3 linked regions of the Homo sapiens genome follow. The protein of the gene in region 3 binds, or shares a complex with, the protein of the main gene of each other region. Each region holds a gene or a part of one and is shown on either strand. Other genes may lie near its edges. A codon is read from its position in the direction of its gene.

Evidence for each region.
Region 1: C9orf78 (region 3) and DDX39B share a complex: the UniProt entries of both Homo sapiens proteins name them as parts of the spliceosome.
Region 2: the proteins of C9orf78 (region 3) and SNRNP200 are in contact, whole or in part, in a cryo-EM structure (PDB 7OS2), measured with the Homo sapiens proteins. Residues at the interface, in NP_057604.1 of Homo sapiens: Arg5, Lys6, Ile7, Phe8, Arg9, Arg10, Arg11, Glu16, Ser17, Glu19, Glu21, Asp23, Ser24, Glu25, Val27, Arg28, Lys30, Leu31, Thr34, Arg35, Val37, Gln38, Arg41, Arg43, Pro44, Asn45, Gly46, Val47, Ser48, Ala49; in NP_054733.2 of Homo sapiens: Val1188, His1189, Leu1190, Gln1191, Glu1201, Pro1283, Ser1285, Arg1287, His1288, Leu1289, Asp1729 (codon at 4,428), His1730 (codon at 4,425), Asn1769 (codon at 4,308), Tyr1770 (codon at 4,305), Asn1772 (codon at 4,299), Gln1774 (codon at 4,293), Gly1775 (codon at 4,290), His1780 (codon at 4,178), His1784 (codon at 4,166), Leu1788 (codon at 4,154), Gln1791 (codon at 4,145), Asp1795 (codon at 4,133), Gln1798 (codon at 4,124), Ser1799 (codon at 4,121), Tyr1826 (codon at 4,040), Thr1827 (codon at 4,037), Glu1830 (codon at 4,028), Leu1831 (codon at 3,837), Met1834 (codon at 3,828), Ser1835 (codon at 3,825).

What each region holds. Positions count from the first base shown.
Region 1 is NC_000006.12:31,538,977-31,546,749, forward strand, and holds the start of DDX39B (spliceosome RNA helicase DDX39B), read right to left. Parts: upstream 3,028-7,773; 5' UTR 2,974-3,027; intron 2,203-2,973; exon of another isoform or gene 2,125-2,202; intron 1,689-2,124; 5' UTR 1,557-1,688; coding exon 1,346-1,556; intron 299-1,345; coding exon 171-298; intron 1-170. Other genes in the region: ATP6V1G2 (V-type proton ATPase subunit G 2), read right to left, coding at 6,432-6,605, 7,133-7,233, 7,502-7,583. UniProt on the Homo sapiens protein: Involved in nuclear export of spliced and unspliced mRNA. Component of the TREX complex which is thought to couple mRNA transcription, processing and nuclear export, and specifically associates with spliced mRNA and not with unspliced pre-mRNA.
Region 2 is NC_000002.12:96,274,520-96,281,546, forward strand, and holds part of SNRNP200 (U5 small nuclear ribonucleoprotein 200 kDa helicase), read right to left. Parts: intron 5,041-7,027; coding exon 4,932-5,040; intron 4,480-4,931; coding exon 4,290-4,479; intron 4,193-4,289; coding exon 4,028-4,192; intron 3,840-4,027; coding exon 3,718-3,839; intron 3,432-3,717; coding exon 3,288-3,431; intron 3,197-3,287; coding exon 3,020-3,196; intron 2,723-3,019; coding exon 2,562-2,722; intron 2,467-2,561; coding exon 2,385-2,466; intron 831-2,384; coding exon 738-830; intron 637-737; coding exon 493-636; 3' UTR 1-492. UniProt on the Homo sapiens protein: Catalyzes the ATP-dependent unwinding of U4/U6 RNA duplices, an essential step in the assembly of a catalytically active spliceosome. Plays a role in pre-mRNA splicing as a core component of precatalytic, catalytic and postcatalytic spliceosomal complexes.
Region 3 is NC_000009.12:129,826,769-129,832,281, forward strand, and holds the end of C9orf78 (splicing factor C9orf78), read right to left. Parts: intron 5,206-5,513; coding exon 5,128-5,205; intron 4,301-5,127; coding exon 4,103-4,300; intron 2,774-4,102; coding exon 2,637-2,773; intron 2,536-2,636; coding exon 2,437-2,535; intron 1,485-2,436; coding exon 1,393-1,484; 3' UTR 522-1,392; downstream 1-521. UniProt on the Homo sapiens protein: Plays a role in pre-mRNA splicing by promoting usage of the upstream 3'-splice site at alternative NAGNAG splice sites; these are sites featuring alternative acceptor motifs separated by only a few nucleotides. May also modulate exon inclusion events.

The DNA.
Region 1 (7,773 bases), on a different chromosome or scaffold from region 3:
AATCATGAACCCCACGCTTGCGACAGAACATCCCCCACAGCTGTCAGGTTGTCAAGGGTAACAGAGGTCATGTGCTCATGGCTCTGCAAGCATCATGTAGCTAGGACAAAAACACCCTTCCCTTATAGTCCTAACCAAAATCCCCTCCCCAGCACTCTCCCCAAATATACCTGCCCAGTAACTGGCTCCAGCTGTTGCAGTGTGGCCAAGACAAACACTGCTGTCTTTCCCATGCCCGACTTGGCCTGGCACAGGACATCCATTCCCAGAATGGCCTGAGGGATGCACTCATGCTGGACTAAAAGTTGGGGGGGGAGGAAGATAAATTAGACTTCAGTCTCCAGATAACTCTACCTTTTTCACCATGCCAAGCCCATTTCTTACCACTCAATTCTCAAAGTCTAGTATTTACCTGGTTCTTGCCAACTTCCAGACCCATTTTACCTCTCTCTGCTCAATTACATTCACCTCAAAATCAGACTCTCCTAATTCCTCCTAGCTTTAGCCTCCTCCAGATCTAGGCCTTCCCAGTCCTAGTAACAAACCCCTTGCATCTACCAACCGCTCACCTTCAATGATCCTAGCTCTGTCCTTATTTTTCTTAATCTGTAACAATTCATGACATTTGAATACCTGCCACAGACCACTTCTCCTGCTTAGGTTGCTATACTTCGGGTCACGTAACTACTACAACCCTGGACAAAATGAAGGACTTGGTACCTGACCCAGAAGCCAGTCATCTCTAAACCAGTCATAGAGGTTTCCAGAGACCACAGTTGGCCTGGCCCAACAGAGGGAGACTACAGGTCCAAGCAGGACCTTTCTGGAAATTTAAAATTAGAAGTCAAGTGACAAAATTAAAAATAAGCAGACAAGAAAAGCCAGTCACAAGAATGAATGGCAGACCTGGAAGTCACTTTTGGATCATTAGCACTTTGGTGCTATCACGAAAGAAAGAATAAGCCTGTATAAGCCTCCTCTATCCAAAATTGTTTTTGATACTTATCCCCTGATTTTTTCTTCCTCACTGTCGCCCCGGCTGGTGCACAGTGGTGCAATCACGGCTCACTGAAGCCTCAACCTTCACCTGCTTAATTTCTGAACGTTTTGTAGAGACAGGAGTCTCGCTGTGTTGCCCAGGCTTCTCTTGCACTTTTGAGCTCAAGTGGCCACCCTCCTGCCTCGGCCTCCCAAAGTGCTGGGATTACAGGCGTGAGCCACTGCACCTGGCCCTGATCTAGCCTTAAGTATAAACCCTTACCACCACCTGAGCAACGACAAACACATCTTTGTATTGTACCCTTAAAGAGCCCAATGAGCACTACATGCCCAAGAGAAAATTTACCTTCTGACGGATGCTCAAAGCCACAGTCGACAATGGCCCGGAGCAACTCTGGCTTGAGCAGGAAGTCACGAAAGCCAGAGCTGTGGATGGAGACATAGGAGCCCTTGACATCCTTCTTGGCAGGGGCCTCAGCCCCATCTCCCCCAGCTGCTGTCTCCACCTCATCATCTTCATAGTCCAAGAGCTCATTGTCCACATCGTTCTCTGCCATAACTGGGCCGGCAGGGGAAGAAGGGAAGGGGGATCTGGATGGGTTCTCGCAAAATAGGTGAAAACAAGGGGTGAAGAGTAGGGGATTGAGGAACAGCAAAGGAAAACAAAGATACTATTTCTAACAGAAGAGCTGGAGGGGGGAAAAAAAAAAGCAAGACTTAATCACGAGCACAGCCTTCACCACCTCTTTTCCATCCCCAGTTCCCACTTTCCCTAAACCAGGAAACTTTTACCTGGAAAGAAAAACAGATACAAAACATAAAAACGAAAAGCAAATATAACAGAACAGAAAAAGCAGTACCAGGGAAAGTGGTTAGGACAGAGGTTCCCAACAAGATTAGCAATCACAGTAGCGGAAACCAGAAAAGTTGGAAGGGGAAGACCAACTTATAAATTCTTGATCTGAAAGTAACAGTGAGGAAATAGAATAGATAATAAAAGGTAAAATACGACTAATAACTTAGTAAAGTGGAAAATGGAGATGACAAGTAGAGTCCTGAAAAGTCCTCAAAGGAAGACTCCGCTTTCCCTATTATAATCCCACCGTTATGGATGCCTAACTCAGCAGCCATCAGTCAAGGGTGATAGATGAGGGTCATCACTGCGCAAAGCGCTCACCTTTCGAAAAGAAAACATCATATGGCCGCCGTCCACCTCCCATAGCTCTCAGCCTCCCACTTCTCAGTATCCTCCCTTCCGCTGTTTAAGCAAGCCTTGTGTAATTAGCATGGGGGGGAGGGGCGGTGCAAGACAAATGGCTCGGCCACAAAAAAACAAAATTCATGTCTCCACCCTACAATAAGAAAGCTAATAGGTGACAGAGAAAGGCAATCCCCGCCCAGGCTTTAACAGGATCTTTACCAAGTGGTCTCACATCACTGTTACGCTACGAAGGTGAGACTCCTTTTGGAGAAACATACAATGACACCAATCGTATCGTAAACACTTGGAAGGCACTCCAAATTAAGTTGGGCAAGTCAAGGTGAGAAAAATCCAACTGGGCCCAGAAACCAGCTCCTCCTCCCAGTCCCACCGAGGGCCGAGAAAGAGCTCAAGAAAGGACAAGGAAGGTGAGAAGAGCCCCGCCCTCCGCAAATACCAAGACCAAGGGACGCCGAGCGCCGCCTCTCATTGATGCTGAGGCCTCCAATATGAGAAGAACCCATTGGAAGAAGGGAGCAAAACGAACACAATGGCGCCGAGGACACCATCTTGGATTGGGTCCCCCCTTAGCTTCCCTTCCTTCCCCCAGGAGCTCTTTGCTCTCGAAAGGGATGCAAGCTAAGGAAATAGCGAACCAACTAGGCCCCAGCGACCAGACCATCGCCTGTGAAAAGGGTATCAGGAACCCATGTGACGGGATGGGTGCGGAGAAGCGCAGATGGAAACGGATTGTAGCGAAGGCCAAAGCTTACCTAAACAGGGAGAGCGCGTATGGCGGCAGCAACAGCGACGAAGGAGGGAAATCTGCCTTCACTTCCGGTTGCAGGCTTCCCTCTACTCCAGCCTCCCGCCTTCTTGGCTGCAAGAGCGCAGGCGCAAGGGACCGGAAACAGGGCCTTCCGCGGTTATACAGATCCGTGCGCTCCAGGCTTGCCTTTGGAAAATGCCTGTCTGAAATTTGTTTTAAAACCGTTTCTAACTTCACTGCTACCGCCAGTAACAAAAGATATAAAGGAAACTAACGTCTCCCCCCCACTGTTATCTTTATTCTCTTATCCTACTCCTCTCCATGCCCCTCATCTCTTCGTTTAGGTTTTTGCCACGCAGGTCTTCTCTGTAGGCACCCCTCCATGGATGCGCGAGGAACGAGTGTGGCGAAGGCTGCGAGTTCCCACGGGGTCCTTGGCCCGGTAGTGAAGGTGACCTGAGGACTGCTGGGCACGCACTAGGAACCGGCAGGCCCTAGCTGAGGGGAGGGAGGAGGGAAGTCTCAGGGAACTGGATTGCTCGGGGGTGTTTCCCGACTCTTTCCCAGTCGTGGGGCTGGTGGGCGGTATTTTCCCAAAAGGATGCTGTCCGAGGTAGCTGATGCCCTAGGGCCAGTGAGTCAGGAAGGTGTTCTGAATCCGAGCGGGAAGACGGGGTCTGGATTCGGCCCCAAGTGTTAATAGTAGGGCTTGAGGGTTATACTACATTCCATTAATACTGTTTTTGTTTTTGTTTTGAGACAGAGTCTCGCCCTGTCGCCCAGGCGGGAGTGCAATGTCCTGATCTCGGCTCACTGCAACCGCTGCTTCCCGGGTTCAAGCGATTCTCCTGCCTCAGCCTCCCGAGTAGCTAGGATTACAGGCGCCCGCCACCACGCCCAGCAAATTTTTGTTTTTTTAGTAGAGACGGGGCTTCACCCATGTATGACCTCAGGTGATCCACCCACTTCGGCCTCCCAGAGTGCTGGGATTACAGGCGTGAGCCACCGCGCCCGGCCCATTAATACTGTTAATTCGAGCAGAATGTTCTTGGCCCCGCCCCAACAGCCCCATTGTTCAACCTGGATTTTTTTCCTGAATGAAACATTTGCTATCCCCGTCTTTGAGATGGGGAGCTACAAAAGTAAGACCTGATGTCCTGCTGTGTAATAAAACAACAAACGTTTGGCCCTCTCCCTGTTAACATACTTAATCATTTAATACTAAGGAGTAGGTACCGTTATTCTCATCTTATTGACAGAAGCGAAGCAAAGCAACATATCTCAAGCAGTACGGCTGGTGAGGTTACAGCCAGGATGCAAACATCTCTCATTCTCTATTGTATTCTGCCTCCCTGCTCAAAGAATCTGGTTAGTAAATACACTGCAGGTTACCTTATTGGTTCAAATTCTTGGTGAAGTAAGCTTGTCTTCAGTGACAAATGAAGTAACTAATTCAAGAATGGTGTCATAGAAGGTATTTTCCCAAGTATCATTTAATTTATTCAAAAGTATTTATCAACTGCCTCCCTTGTGCCACATGTTGTCCTAGGATCTGGGGACACAACGGTGAACAGCCCTGTTCTCACAGTGTTTACATTACAGGAAAGAAAACACATAAACACAAATATAATGTCAAGTATCGATAAGTGGTCAGGGTGCAGTGGCTCAGGCCTGTAACCCAACCCTTGAGGAAGCCGAGCCCGAAGGATTGCTTGAGCCCAGGAGTTTCAGACCAGCCTGGGCAAGTGAGACCCCATCTCTACAAAAAATTTTAAAATTAGCAAGGCATAGTGGCACTCGCCCGTAATCCCAGCTACTCAGGAGGCTGAAGTGGGAGGATCATTTGAGTCCAGGGGGTCAAGGCTGCCGTGAGCTGGAACTCCAGCCTGGGCAACACAGCAGGACCTTGTCTCAAAAAACCAGTAGCAGTAAGTGCTATGAAGAAAATGCAAGGTAAAGGGGCAAAGAGCACTTGCTCCTACACTCCAGCTTTTCTCTACAGTTGCGATCTATAGTCCTCAGATTCCCAAATGAGGAACCATGTTTCTCACTTTAGAGAAATAATAAAGTACTACTTGTTCTTGTTTCTCCAAGAAGTTTCAAAGGATAGCCATTTGGGCTGTTTAGGGAATATGTAAACAAAAAACAAGAAAGTGACTGAAGGCCAGGCACAGTGGCTCACACCTCTAATCTCAGCACTTTGGGAGGCCAAGGCAGGTGGATCACTTGAGGTCAGGAGTTTGAGACCAGCCTGACCAACATGGCGAAACCCCATCTCTACTAAAAATACAAAAAATAGCCAGGCGTGGTGGCACACACCCATAATTCCAGCAACTTGGGAGGCTGAGGCAGGAGAATCGCTTGAACCTGGGAGGCAGAGGTTGCAATGAGCTGAGATCACGCCATTGTATTCCAGCCTGGGCAACAAGAGCAAAACTCCATCTCAAAAAAAAAAAAAACAAAGTGACTGAAAATGAGAAATGATGAGGCAAAAGGAGGCTGCTTCAACTCACCAATTTATTTGCCAATAATTATTTTATTGATACTTTTTTTATTGTTACAATGGGAAAGTAAGGTGTCAAGGATATAGAAAGGAAGGGCATGCATATGAGGGAACACAGTATCATTTTAGATCTTAGAAAGCAATGAGCATCTGATAAGTCTTTGGGGAAATAGGAAAGGAGGAAAATCTAATAAAGACAAAGATCAGCAAAAGAAAAACAAAGAGAGGCTACAAAATGCAGTTATCTACCTGGAATTATAAGAGAGGGGCTAAATGTAGTCATCTCCTCTTTTTGGAGATCAGAAGGTCTCTGGGAAAAGAGAAGAACCAATTTTTCAGAAAATAACTAGGGTCACAGAATGAACAAGTGGAATTAGAGAGCCAGTGATGGACGTGAGGAAACAGCTGTGTAGGTTTTGACCAGTGAGCAGGTGGTGGTAATAGTATCACAGGGTTGCTACTTACTGAATCACTGCTACAACATGCAAGGAACTGTGCTAGACTTTACAGAATGATTCCTAATCATTGAAGCAACCCTCACAAGGTAGGCATTATTATCATCCCAGTTTCACAGAGGAGGACATCGAGGCTACCAAGTTAAGTAGCTTGTCCTGGTTTCACAGCCAGCAAGTGACAGGGTCAAGAGAGGGACCCACATCGGCCAGACACTGAAGTCAGGATGTTTTCCACATTCCTACTTCCCCATATTACAAATTTCACAGAGGGTTTAGGTGAGAATGACTTGGAAGTTTACAAAGTCCCAGTGAGGGTTAAAGAACAACAAGGAGATTCAGATGTGAGCAGGATATTTATAAGTGTCACAGGAAAATTATTGGATCCTGCCTCCCAGGATTTCTAGGGGATGGAAAGAAGACAGGGATTATGGTGGGAGGTGATTTTGATTGGAGGATTTCTTTGAGGGAGGGAACTGGCAGAAGGAGTCAGGCCCTACGGTGGCCCTAGGCAGAAATCCGGTAGTTGGGGTGGACCTGGGGCCTGACGTCGCAGACCATGCCAAGAAGCTGGGCCAGGACACGCTCTCGGTTTCTCTGCTGGGAGCTCTGCATGCCCTGCACCTGGCGCCTTGTAGCCTGCTCCACCTCAGCAGACAGGTTCCCCTGGGAGCCCATGGCCTGGGGGGTAGGGAGAGGGGTGGAAGAGAGAAAGGGAAAAGCAGAAACAGACAAGGGTCCAGGCATATGAGGGGAAAGATCCTGAAACAAAGCCTAGAAGAAAGGCCCTCTCAGAAACCACCCCCATCCCACAGAAATATCCCAACACCAAAGAGATCAACACAGTCCCCTTTCCCCTTAGACCTAACATGCAACTTCATCCTAAAACAGACCGTAATATCCCCACCACCTCACCATCCATGACCATAAAACTCTACCCTCCACCACAAATGTTAATCATACTCCACATAGATGTTATACTTTACACAGACTGTGGCATTCCGCCCACAAGCTCTATGTGGCCTTCAAAACTCCCAGACTCTCCTACATATCATCACAAAGTTTCACCAATGTTGTGGTCCCTGCCAGGGTCCCCTCAGCCTCAGCCCTCTGCCACCATATTTTCTTGTTGAGTCACCCTTACACACCTCACTAGATGCACCCACCAACTTGCAGTGGGGTCTCAACCCGACTCTGCCTCAACTCACCGCCTGCTGCTTGCTCTGGAATTCGTGCTCTCGCTCTCTGCGGTATTGCTCCACCTCCATCTGTGCCTCCTCCTTTGCCTGCTTCAGTCGCCGGGCCTTCCCTGGAGGCAGAAGAAAGGACAGTGAGTGGGGATGGACCCACACACACACAATGTAATAGCAGGAGTCAGTCCCTTCCAGAAAGTTATACAGCCTTCTCTCAGCCAACCAGGTGCCAGATTCTAATATCCATCCATTTCTTCCCTCCTAACCAGCCTCCAGACCCTAGCTGTCTGTCTTCCCGCCAGCCTTGGGTTTTCCCAAAATGTTTGCTGTCCCCCACCCCCAATTTTCTTTCCAAACTCCTAAGGGAGGAAAGAGGAGACTCACTCTTTCTGGCATCTGCCACCTTCTCAGCTGCCCGCTTCTCAGCTTGCAGAAGCTGCTGGATACCTTGGGACTGACTGGCCATTTCTGTTGTTATGGCCGATGCTGTTTTGAATGCTGTCAAAGTACCAGATGGCTCCCACCCCCCACCGCTTACTTCTCCTCCTCCAGCTCGTTGCTGCAGTCCTCCACTACCCCTGGGTCTTAGTGCTCCCCTGCTCACTCAGCCTCCTGCACCGAGTGTCTCTCCCAATCTCATCCTCCTATTGATGACT
Region 2 (7,027 bases), on a different chromosome or scaffold from region 3:
GGGTACCACTGAGGCCAGGCCACAGTCGCATGTACCCTCCTCTGGGCTGACTCACGAGGCTACAGGGGACAGCACACCTAATGAGCAGGTCTGTCCTCCAGACATACTCATTAACAAGCACGTTCCTGGCTAAAAAATAACCAGATCTTTTTGGCCGTGCCCTCAGGTTGGAGAAAGAAAACTTTTAATTTGGAATCACTACAAAGACAAATGGTTTCTACAAATTATTTTATTAGAATGTCAGACTCAAAAGAACTACCAGGAACATGCCTGAAAATGCTATATATGATTTATGCTTGACCCATGACACCTGCTGTCACTGGATCCAGAGTGAGCAAGGGAAAGGAAGTGGAGGTAGGCGGGGACAGCACCAGCCCTGGCTGGCCAGACCTGAGGCCCACAGACCTGGTCCCCACAACCAGGATTCCTACAATGTACACATTCCTAATTCAGGCTCAACTCTCCTTTACCCAAAAGTAAATGCCTCAGGACTCAATCTGAATCACTGTCTGTCTCAGCTTCTTTCACATCCACGCTGAATTTGTACTCCTGGTCACATCCCATGTAAGCGTCACTCATGAAGTACAGAGTGTAGTTGTGGGCACCAGTGGCTGGGGCCACAAAGTCCAACTTCACCTAGAAAGAGCAGGCAGAAATCAAGATGAGCATGGACACAGGAAGCATTCTCACCCTTCCCCCATGCCAGAACAAATGCTAGGGCCAGTGGACACACTCACCTTGGCCTTCTGCTGCAAGGTCAGCCTCTTGATGGAGATGAGGCTATTGGACTTGGCATCTCCAATCACCACCCACCAGCCCTCTTCACGTTTCTGCAGTGATCCAAAACCAAGAATTTCAGCATGTAAAACTTGATGACCATAGGCAACCATGAAAATGGTACAGTTACAAAAGAGAGAACAAAAATCAGATAGCTTTCCAAAGTTTCTTCCCGAAATACAATTAGATTTAACATTTTAATACTATCAAAAGTTGTCTCAAACAGACTTAATTTTTTAAGTAGATGAATTCATTTGTTGGTTCTGGCTCATTTCCTTGTGCCAAGGTACCTTCTCCCACTTAGTACCTGCCACTAAGTCCAAGGTACTACTATTAGAGGTCTAGTCTTTGGGGCCTAGGAGCTTTGAGTTCCTTAGAGATACTTTTAAGTACAAGGCAAATCTGCCAGATGAGAAAAAGCTTAGGCTGGGCGCGGTGGCTCACGCCTGTAATCCCAGCACTTTGGGAGGCCGAGGCGGGTGGATCACGAGGCCAGGAGATCGAGACCATACTGGCTAACATGGTGAAACTCCGTCTCTACCAAAAATACAAAAAAGAAATTAGCCGGGCATGGTGGCGGGTGCCTGTAGTCCCAGCTACTCGGGAGGCTGAGGCAGGAGGATGGCGTGATTCCGGGAGGCGGAGCTTGCAGTGAGCCGAGATCGCGCCACTGCAGTCCAGCCTGGGCGACAGAGCGAGACTCCGTCTCAAAAAAAAAGAAAAAGCTTAACACAGAGCTGAATGTGCACAGAGATATCCACAGCAGGCCTTGCAGCCCTGTCTACGGGCTGCCCCGCTGTCACAAAGACGAAGAGTCCCAGTTAAAAGCAGTCTTTACTCAGAGCCTTGAAACAATTAGTTTACAGAATTAAACATGACAGTATCTGGTTTCTGCTATCAACCTTCAATTATTCTCCCATATAAAGAGAACCAGAATTTCTTTCTGGTGGTAAAAAACCAAGCACCCAGAAGCACAGTAAGTGGCAGTGAGAAAAAAGAAGAAACAACCAGGAAAGCCCAAGTGTCCTGCAGCCATCGGAGTTAAAGACAAATGCATCTTAAAGAGTCAGAGAGATGGACAATACTACACAACTGACGGGTTTAACAATGACCAGTCATCTAAATTTTTTTTTTTTTTTTTTTTTGAGATGAAGTCTCACACTCGCCTGGGCTGGTGTGCAGTGGGGCAATCTCGGCTCGCTGCAGCCTCCGCCTCCTGGGTTCACACCATTCTCCTGACTCAACCTCCTGAGTAGCTGGGACTACAGGTGCCCACCACCACGCACAGCTAATTTTTGTATTTTTAGTAGAGACGGGGTTTCACTATGTTGGCCAGGCTGGTCTCGAACTCCTGACCTCGTGATCCGCCCGCCTTGGCCTCCCAAAGTGCTGGGATTACAGGCGTGAGCCACTGCGCCCGGCCCTAAACTGTTTAAGCAGAAACAAACAGAAAAAAAACCCCATAGCCTCAAGATTAATTCTCACCCTTGTGAGCTGATTATCAGTCTAAAGTTTCCCTCCCTCAGGGACAGTGTGCCCTTGTACCAAGCACCTAGCCAATGGATAGGGTGAGTTGACACCTGACCAAGCCAGCTACCAGGACGCACCTGCGGGAAGAGAGGCGCAATGACAGGGCCTGTGACTTCCTCCTCTCGCTCCAGCTGCACCAGCACCACAACTGGCCCGCCACTGCAGGGGGAGAGGAGGGGCGCACGTCAGTGATGGGGCAGTGGGCTCAGAGCACACTATTATGCTGTGCCCAACAGGCACCACCTCTGGCTCACCTGCGGATGCTGTCCTTATCTACCACCTCATAAGATAGTTCGATATTAGGGTAGCGGTTACAAAAGCGAGCCACATCTGCAATCTGGCTGTCAGTCAGCTGAAGCAACGCGTTCCGTTCTTCATCCTCCATCTCCATGATGTCGAAAACACTCTCCACTCCCTGCAGTGAGTATTCAGACGTCAGGAAAGAGAGAACACGGGCCAACAGCAAATGACACAGGCAGCAAAGAGCTACTAATTTTACCTCCTACACTATCAAGTCATCTAGATAAAACAGCTGCAGAAAGAACACAGCCCACAGTTGGCAGGCTCTCTAGCATCTCAACAGGGAGCACCTTCGGAGGAACCATAACTAAAAGTTTAACTTACTGAGACTCACCTCCCGCAACCCACGCTCGGTCCACAACACTGGGCTCTCAGGCTCACCCACCTGACCCTCTAGGCTGACCCGGCTCACCTTGTCTGTGCAACGTTTGATATGCTCAGAGGTGAAGTGTGGCAGCTGCTTCAGGTATGAGTCCTTGGACCACATGGCTTGGGTGACCATCTGGGCCAGTTCCATAGCTGCCAGAGCAGGGCTGAGCCACCCATTGCTGGAAAGGACATCCACGCAGGCCTGGATGAGCCGGATTGCCTGAACAGGAAAAGGAGTATAAAAGTGGGCGGAGTTGGAGCTGAGATGTTTAGAGCACCACTGACCCCTCTGCCCCACACCCACACTCTACCTTACTAAGGATTTCCTCCGTATCTGACTGCAACTCAGCACTCAGCTGCATGCGAGACAAGTGAGCCTGCAGGAGCAGGTTGGTCTTGACGTGCGGATCATTGAACTTAGGGTTATTCAGCTTGTGGGGGACCTTCTGAGCCAACTACAAAGTGGAAGAAAAATAGCTGGTGATGAACAGGTGACCCTGCCTGAGACCAGCTCAGGCCAAAGCACCACGTGGCCCAGGCTCACACAGCCCTTCAACACCCTGAGGCATGTGGGTGGTAATGGGATGGAGATGGGTTTGAGGGAGGTATGGAGCGGGAGGACATATGGCGGGGGTCGGGGGATGCGTATGGGCGTGTTGGTGGCAGGGATGCCATGTGCTCTGGGCACACAGGCCGAGTTTGTTGTTCCCAGGATGCTCTCCTGAAGTCTGCTGTCCTCACCTGCCTCAGGAGATTGTCTTCATGGTGCCGGATGGGAATGTTCTCATACTCTGCTGCATTGGAGATGATCTCGATAAGCCCTCGCACCTTGGTCTTGGCATTGAGGGACATGCTGAAGAGCTCTGACAGAAAAAGGAAATGTGAGAGAAGCTAAAACCAGGCAGAGAAGGAGCAGAACTGCCCGGGCTCCCCTGCTGTCCCCTGCAGTGTCATCCCGCTGACAAACACGGGCGCACCTCTCATCCCAGTGGGCTCCTGACCCGTGTAAAAAGGCTCCCACAGACAGGACACGGGCCATGCCGGGCCTCACCAATGGTGGTGTAGTTGATGTAATAGTAGGCGGCGATCATGCCTAGGTTCAGAGGCGCCACGTCCATCTCGTCCTCGATGCTGATGCACTTGGACTGCTCCAGGTCACTCAGGGTCTGCTCCACCAGCTCTGACAAGTGGTCCGACAAGTGACGATGGGAGATGCCTATGGAGGCGAGAGGTGAGTGGGGAGCCTCAAGAAGATGCCCAGCAAAGACTGTGAGAACCACCAAAGGATCACGTGTGCTCCCAAGCCCACTGACCCTGCAGGTTGTAGTAATTGGGGTTCTGTGTCATGCGGCGGTACAGAAAGGTCCAGGTGAGGTAGTCCACAGCATCCTGCTTGTTCTCAATGGTCTTGGTGACGATCTCAGCATTGAAGTGGTCATGCATACAGTGGTCCAGGTGAGATTCTACTGGCAATGGCTCATATAAGAACTTCTTGAAGAAATCCTGTGGGTTGGAGAGGGAGAAGGAGTAATAAAGAATTAGTGACAACACGGTCACAGAGGGCCAAGGGCAAATCAACAGGGCATGGTCCCTGTGTGAGACCTAACTAATACCAAAATGGAAGAAGCCACACATTTAGAAAGTGCATCACTGGTGACAATACGCAGTGGGAACAGAGGTACAGCAAGTCACGAGGGCAGAGCAGTGAGCAGCCCAAGGAGGAAGGAGAGAACCAAGTAGAGGGTGAAGACCTCAACACGTGGAGCCAACGGCAGCAGCAAAAGCAAAAGGCAGCAAAATTCCATGTGGGTGGCAGGCTCGTCACAAAAGAATTGTGTAAATAAGAGAGGCAGAAGTTAAGAGACTAAAGTTACTGAAGACATCTATCAAAAGAAAGATTAAAGAATCCATTCTGAGGCTACGGATCCAAGAGGCTCCATGAGTCTAGGACTGACCTTCTTGGAGCCCTGACACATGATGACACAGCGCCCCTCATCGTCCTGCAAAGGGCGGTTGGCGTGGCCCACCATCTGAAGCACGTCATAGATGGGGTAATCCACATAGCTGGTGACAGAAGCAGGGAAAGAAGGAAAAGCCACCTCAACACGGAGACCATGCTCAGGAAGCCCAACTCCCTTCGCCAAGTAAGAGTAAAATGTTAATACGGGGAGACACGGACAAATCACGGGACGACTCTGTTTATGAATCTCTGCACTTACAACTAGCTTCACTGGCTGGCCTGTATAACATTTTAGTATTCAGTGTAAGGGCCATGAATTTGCTGCTCAAGTGCCATGAACCAAGCTACAAAACTATCTAATGCCAAAACCAAAATAACTCCCTATTCGAGGATCAAATATGTAAGTCAAACTTCCCAAACTTTTCTCCTTTAATTAAAAAAAATTATTATTGTTTTTATTTGTTTTTTGATACAGGGTCTTGCTCTGCTGTCCATACTGGAGTGCAGTGGCACAGCCACGGCTCACTGCAGCCTTTACCTCCTAGGCTCAAGTGATCCTCTCACTTTAGCCTCCAGAGCAGGTGGGACTACAGGTGCATACCACCACACTTTCCAAACTTCATAGTTGTGTATTTCGTGAGTCATCAAGTCACCCAACTTTAACCCTACCTAGAAGCAGGTTCAAACATTAAAAATGAACCCGTAAATAAAATTCATTTCAAACTAATCTGCATTTCAGGAAAAAGTTATTAAGCGTTGGGCCAGGCACTATAACTCACACCTGTAATCCCAGCACTTTGGGAGGCTGAGGTGGGTGGATCACTTGAGCTCAGGAATTCAAGACCAGCCTGGGCAACATGGTGAAAACCCATCTATACAAAAAAAAGGAAAAATTAGCTGGGAGTGGTGGCACATGCTGGTAGTCCCAGCTACTTGGGAGACTGAGGCAGGATGATTGCTTGAGCCTGGCAGGCAGAGGCTGTAGTGGGCTGAGATCATACCACCGCATTCCAGCCTAAACGACAGAACAAGATTGTCTTAAAAAAAAAACAACAACAAATTATGCAGGCTTTTTTATGAGAATGACTGACTCTTCTAACTTCTTTTTTTTTGAGATGGAGTCTCGCTCTGTTGCTCAGGCTGGAGTGCAGTGGTGCTATCTCGGCTCACTGCAACCTCCGCCTCCTGGGTTCCAGCGATTCTCCTGCCTCAGCCTCCCAGGTAGCTGGGATTACAGGCGCGTGCCACCACACCAGGCTAATTTTTGTATATTTAGTAGAAACAGGGTTTCACCACATTGGCCAGACTGGTCTCGAACTCCTGACCTTGTGATCCACCCGCCTTGGCCTCCCAAAGTGCTGGGATTACAGGCATGAGCCACCACACCTGGCCCTTTTTTTTTTTTTTTTTTTTTTGAGACGGGGTACCACTCTGTTGCCCAGACTGGAGTGCAATGGCGCGATCTTGGCTCACTGCAACCTCTGCCTCCTGGGTTCAAGTGATTCTCCAACCTCAGCCTCCCAAGTGGCTTGAATTACAGGTGAGTGGCTTGAATAACAGGCACCTGCCATCAAACCTGGCTAATTTTTGTAGAGACGGGGTTTTGTCATGTTGGCCAGGCTGGTCTTGAACTCCTGACATCAGGTGATCTGCCCACCTTGCCCTCCCAAAGTGCTGGGATTACAGGTGTGAGCCACCACACCCAGGCTTTTTTTTTTTTTTTTTTTTTGAGTTGGAGTCTCACTCTGTTGCCCAGGCTAGAGTGCAATGGTGGGATCTCAGCTCACTGTAGCCTCTGCCTCCCAGGTTTAACTGATTCTCCTGCCTCAGCTTCCCAAGTAGCTGGGATTACAGGCGCCTGCCACCACACTCAGCTAATTTTTGTTATTTTTAGTAGAGACGGGGGTTTCACTATGTTAGCCACACTGGTCTTGAACTCCTGACCTCAAGTGATCCGCCCGCCTCAGCCTCCCAAAGTGCTGGGATTACAGGCATGAGCCACTGCGCTCGGCACTCCTCTAGCTTCTTACTTGTCACTATATAGGTGTATGACCTCGACCAAGTCACTTTTCCTAATCTACAAGATGTCTG
Region 3 (5,513 bases):
ATTCATAGTTTTGAGGACTGCCTATCTGTCAGATTATGGGCTATGCCCTGGGGATTCAAATTTAAAAATTAGGCACACATGGTTCCTGCCTTCACTGACCATATTCAAGTGGAGGAAAAAAAAAAATCTCCATTTTACAGATGAGAAAACTGAGGCTAAGAGTGAAAAGGATCTGTCCAAGGACACAAGTAGTAAGCTGCGAGGTGGGCTCAGATCTGACTCCTGGGCCAAACCACTGTAACCACAATACCTGCTCTAAATCCACCCAGAAGTCAGCCAATCTGCTCTTTCCTCTTTTGGACCCCTGTGGATGCCTCAGGAAAAATGAGGGCACAGGTAAGAAGGTACTTGACAGCAGGTTGCAGCATGTCTATGCTGCAGTGGTCCAATCATAGCTCACTGTTTGAAATAAATGAGAAAATCCATCTCAGTAATTCAGTTTTACATTTAGGCTACCCAAACCATGGGCTTTAAAAACATTACCTGATGCTGGTATAAGAAACATAATACAAACAATAAGGTTGGATTCATTTTGAAATTTAATAATTCTAATAGTAATAAGAAACATAGTTTATGCTTTTTTTTTAATGAAAACAAACAAGTAATTTTGTAAAAGTCAGAAAACACCAGTATCCTTCTGATCTCATCCTGGATTTTTCTGTCAGCTGGAGGATGCATTTCTGACCCCATCCCAGACACGTGAAAGCAGAAGACATGATGCATCTATAATAATGAAAGCACAATCTAAAGAGTATTATCACACCGTGAACAGCTTCTTCCTGACCCAGAGCAAATATTAAGAGAAAGACAATATATTTACAAACAAGATTTAATAATGCTCACAAGAATAGAGTTTGCCCCCAAATGGAAAATTACACATTATTTTGTTTCAAAAAGTTATAAATTTAGTGCTTGAAAAATCCAGCAGGTAAGTAGAAGGACTAACAGGGTCTGTTTCTGGAACTGTCCGCCAGCAAATGAGCATGCTCTGTCCTGGAAGCCATTTTTCTTTTTCTTTTTTTTTTTTTTTTTTTTTTTTGAGACAGAGTTTTTTGCTCGTTGCCCAGGCTGGAGTACAAAGGTGCAATCTCGGCTCACCACAACCTCCGCCTCTTGGGTTCAAGCAATTCTCCTGCCTCAGCCTCCTGAGCAGCTGGGATTACAGGCATGTGCCACCACGCCTGGCTAACTTTTCTGTATTTTCAGTAGAGACTGGGTTTCTCCATGTTGGTCAGGCTGGTCTCAAACTCCCGACCTCAGGTGATCCGCCCACCTCGGCCTCCCAAAGTGCTGGGATTACAGGCAGGAGCCACCACGCCCGGCCAGGAAGCCATTTTTCATGGGAGGGATATAGGGAGAGGAAGGCGATATTTACATCCCACTCTGCACAACTCAGTACCGCCTATTCATTTTCTTGAACTTCTCATAATGATAGTCATCAGTTGCCTTCTCGTTAGCAGGACGCTTGCGGTTAGGAGGGGACCCTGAGAAGGAAAAGAACAGGAAAGGTGGTTTGCCATGCTGGAACCCACTGCTAGACTTTACTCCATGCAGGCAAAGACAACTGCCTGTTTCCTTCCCCACAGGAGCCCCAGCGCCTAACCCAGTGAACACAGTAGGGCCTCAGTAGATACGTATTTGTCTTTTTTTTTTTCTTTTCTTTTCTTTTTTTTGAGATGGAGTCTCACCCTGTTGCCCAGGCTAGAGTGTAATGGCATGATCTCAGCTCACTGCAACCTCCAACTCCCGAGTTCAAGTGATTCTCCTGCCTCAGCCTCCTGAGTAGCTGGGATTACAGGCACCTGCCACCTCACCTGGCTAATTTTTGTATTTTTAGTAGAGACGGGGTTCACCATGTTGGCCAGGCTCGTCTTGAACTCCTGACCTTAGGTGATCTGCCTGCCTCTGCCTCCCAAAGTGCTGGGATTACAGGCATGGGCCACCGAGCATGGCCAATACCTTTTTCTTTTCTTTAAAAAAAAGATGTGGTCTCACTCTGTCACGCAGGCTAGAGTGCAGTGGTCCAATCATAGCTCACTGCAGCCTTGAACTCTTAGTCTCAAGCAATCCTCCTGTCCCAGCTTCCCCAGCAGCTGAGACTACAAGTGTGAGGCACTGCACCCAGCTAACCTTATGAGTAGCTTTTATTTGTCCTTACTGAAATTTTCTAACTTCTTGAGTCTCTACTGTGCGTGAGAATATGAGAGAGTATGAATTCTCAGAGTAATCCTAACAGGTAGGTTCTATTAGGATTCCAATGAGGAAACTGAGGCTTAGAAAGGGGAAGGCACATAGTCATGGTCCAGAGCATGGACTGGAACCCATATGCCCCGGCTCCAATGCCAGGCTCCACCCTGTCCCCCGCTGCATCCTGCCTCCATGGGTTCCCACATTGCTGAGCACTCCAGGCAGCCCCGAGGCCTTTGTTGCACTCACGCTCAGGCTCTGGCTTCTCCGTGTCACCTACTCTCAAGGGCCGGGCCTTGGGCTCTTCTTTGTTTCTCCGTATGGGCGCGTTGAGCTCCTCATGATAAACTGGACCCAAAGAGACCAGGGGACACGTTAGAACATGAGGTTCCTAGGGATCTCAGCCCAAATAGGGGAATGGGGGCAAGACTGCTCTCCGAGGGGCTTACATCTGTTGTGCTGCACATAATTCACAGCCATGTTGGTAGGCACGAAGGAGGTCTCGCTGTCTTTCTTCTTGTTCTGCTGCTCTGCCAGCAGACGGGCCTTGGCATCCTCCGTGGAAATGATATTTTTTATTTTAGCACTATGGAGAGAAAGAAACCACACCACTTAGAAGATGATAGCACCTTACTACTCAGACATGAGTGGTGAGGCTGGCAGCCCAGCAGTACATAAGAAAATCATGTGTCCTGGGGCACAGCTCTCCACTTTATCAAGCACACTTGTAGTCACATTCTCACGGGACTCTCACGGCTGTCGGAGAACCACAGTTACTCTGCTCTTCTGATCAAGAGCAAATTGAGCTTCAGAGAAGTAAAATGCTTAAGGCTCAAAGTTTGTAAAGGCCAGAAAAGAGCCCAGAAGCCTCCCAGCTTTCTACTGTACCAGAAGATTATTCTAACAATTGTACCTCTTCCATAACAATTCCCTTTTAAAGTGGATATTTTAAGAAGGATCATGGGGAGAAGGGGTGAGTGAGCCTTTAACATGGCTCCTGCTAGAAGAAAACAGAAGAATAAAGGGCCTGATACAGCTGAACAGCTGTAACACGCTAAAGAACCACTTTTGCTTCCAGCAGTCAGGGGCCCTTACTACTCTGATCAAGCCTTCAGCGAAACTTCTAGCAACAACCTGCCAGGGACAATCTCATTTGTATTTGTAGGATTCTAAGGACACAGATAAGAACATGGGGTCTCATTACATTGCCCAGGCTGGTCTTGAACTCCTGGGCTCAAGTGATCCTCCCACCTTGGCCTCCCAAAGAGCTAGGATAACAGGCACAAGTCACCATGTCTGGCCTTTTTTTTTTTTTTTTAAAGGGTCTTACTCTGTCACCCAGACTGGTGTGCAGTGGTGCAATCATGGCTCACTGTAGCCTCAACTCCTGAGCTCAAGTGACAGCCCAGCTAATTTTTTAAATTTTTTTGAGAGACAGGAGTCTGACTATATTTCTCAGGCTGATCTCCTGGCCTCACGTGATCCTCCTGCCTTGGCCTCCCAAGTACTGGGATTATAGGCTTATAGGCATCAGCCACCATACCTGTCCCCCATAAATTTTTTTTTCCTTTTTTTTTGAGATGGAGTCTTGCTCTGTCGCCAGACTGGAGTGCAGTGGCATGATCTCGCCTCACTGCAACCTCCACCTTCAGGGTTCAAGCAATTTCCTGCCTCAGCCTCCCAAGTAGCTGGACTACAGGTGCCTGCCACCATGCCCAGCTAATTTTTGTATTTTTAGTAGAGACGGGGTTCGACCATCTTGGCCGGGCTGGTCTTGAACTCCTGACCTCGTGATCCACCCGCCTCAGCCTCCCAAAGTGCTAGGATTACAGGCATGAGCCACCGTGCCTGGCCTGTCCCCCATAACTTTTAACTGGAAAGCACTGTGTCTTCTGCCTAGGGGTCTCAAACATACTCGATGCCCAGGTCCACCTCAGGAATGCCACTCAGCATCTGGTTGGAAAGCATCTCCTCGGTCTTCTTTGCTGAGGAAACACGGATGTTTTCTGGAAGTTCATAAAGACAGTCCTCTGCATTCTTTGGCTTAACTTTCTGTTCCTCATGTTCCACGATCCCTTTCCTCTTCTTTAGCTCTGTCTCAATGTACTTCATCCTGAAGTGAGAAACCCAGAGGCCTCAGGGAGGGGTGGGAAACACACACCAGGTGTCCTCTAAATCAGTGGTCCCCAACACTGGCCCGCAGACCAGTGACAGTCCATGGAGAAACGAGAAAAAAAATAACTTGAGTTTTTTCATCAAGTTAGAAATTTTCTAAAGAAGCACCAACCTATGAGGTTATGTCCCACTAATCTATTGGTGTTATGATGTACAAGGTTCTTTGAAGACAGAAAGATGATAGTTTGCCAATAGCTTTGTTGGCAAAATAAAAAGTGGGCAAGCCCATGTTTTATCCCTGCAATGTTTTGGGGAAATATTACTAGTCATGAAACCACCTTTGAAAACAAGTTTTTATTTTTTATATTTTGGAGACGGAGTTTCACTCTTGTTGCCCAGGCTGGAGTGCAATGGCGAGATCTTGGCTCGCCGCAAGCTCTGCCTCCCAGGTTCAAGCAATTCTCCTGCCTCAGCCTCCCGAGTAGCTGGGATTACAGGTGCCCACTACCACACCCAGCTAATTTTGTATTTTCAGTAGGGACGGGGTTTCTCCATGTTGGTCAGTCTGGTCTCGAACTCCCCACCTCAGATGATCCACCTGCCTCGGCCTCCCAAAGTGCTGGGACTACAGGTGAGAGCTACCGTGCCCGGCCTGAAAAGACCTTTTAAGAGGTTTTCAAAGTTCTTAAGCTGGGAAGTAGAAAGAGAGGGGCCAACTTTGACATCTTCTAGAAAATTCTAGAAATGTCATCTGTTGACTAAATATCTTGGACTCTGACTGGAGTCCAGCCCCAACTGCTCACAGCCAAACAGACTGACACTTACATGTCTGCATCCTCATCCCTTCGGTTGGTTTCTGCAGAAAACGATGTCCCCAGGTGCAGGTCCTCCTCCTCACTGATCCTGGAGGGAGAGAACAATGAGGCAGAGCTTTCAAGTCACAACTCAATGAGGCTGAGTTTTATGTTCTAAGAAGAAAACAAAGACATAAGCATTTATAATATCCTATTTACAGTTGGCAAAAAAAAAAAAATGCCGTAGTATATGTAAAGAAAAGAAACTCTAGAAATATATGCAAGCAAACTGTTGGCTGCTAGTGATACCTCCAAGGATTGAGTGGATACACTTATCCTTAGGTATCCATGGGGGATTGGTTCTAGTGTCCCTCAAGGATACCAAAATCTGCAGATAGTGAAGTCCCTTACATAAAA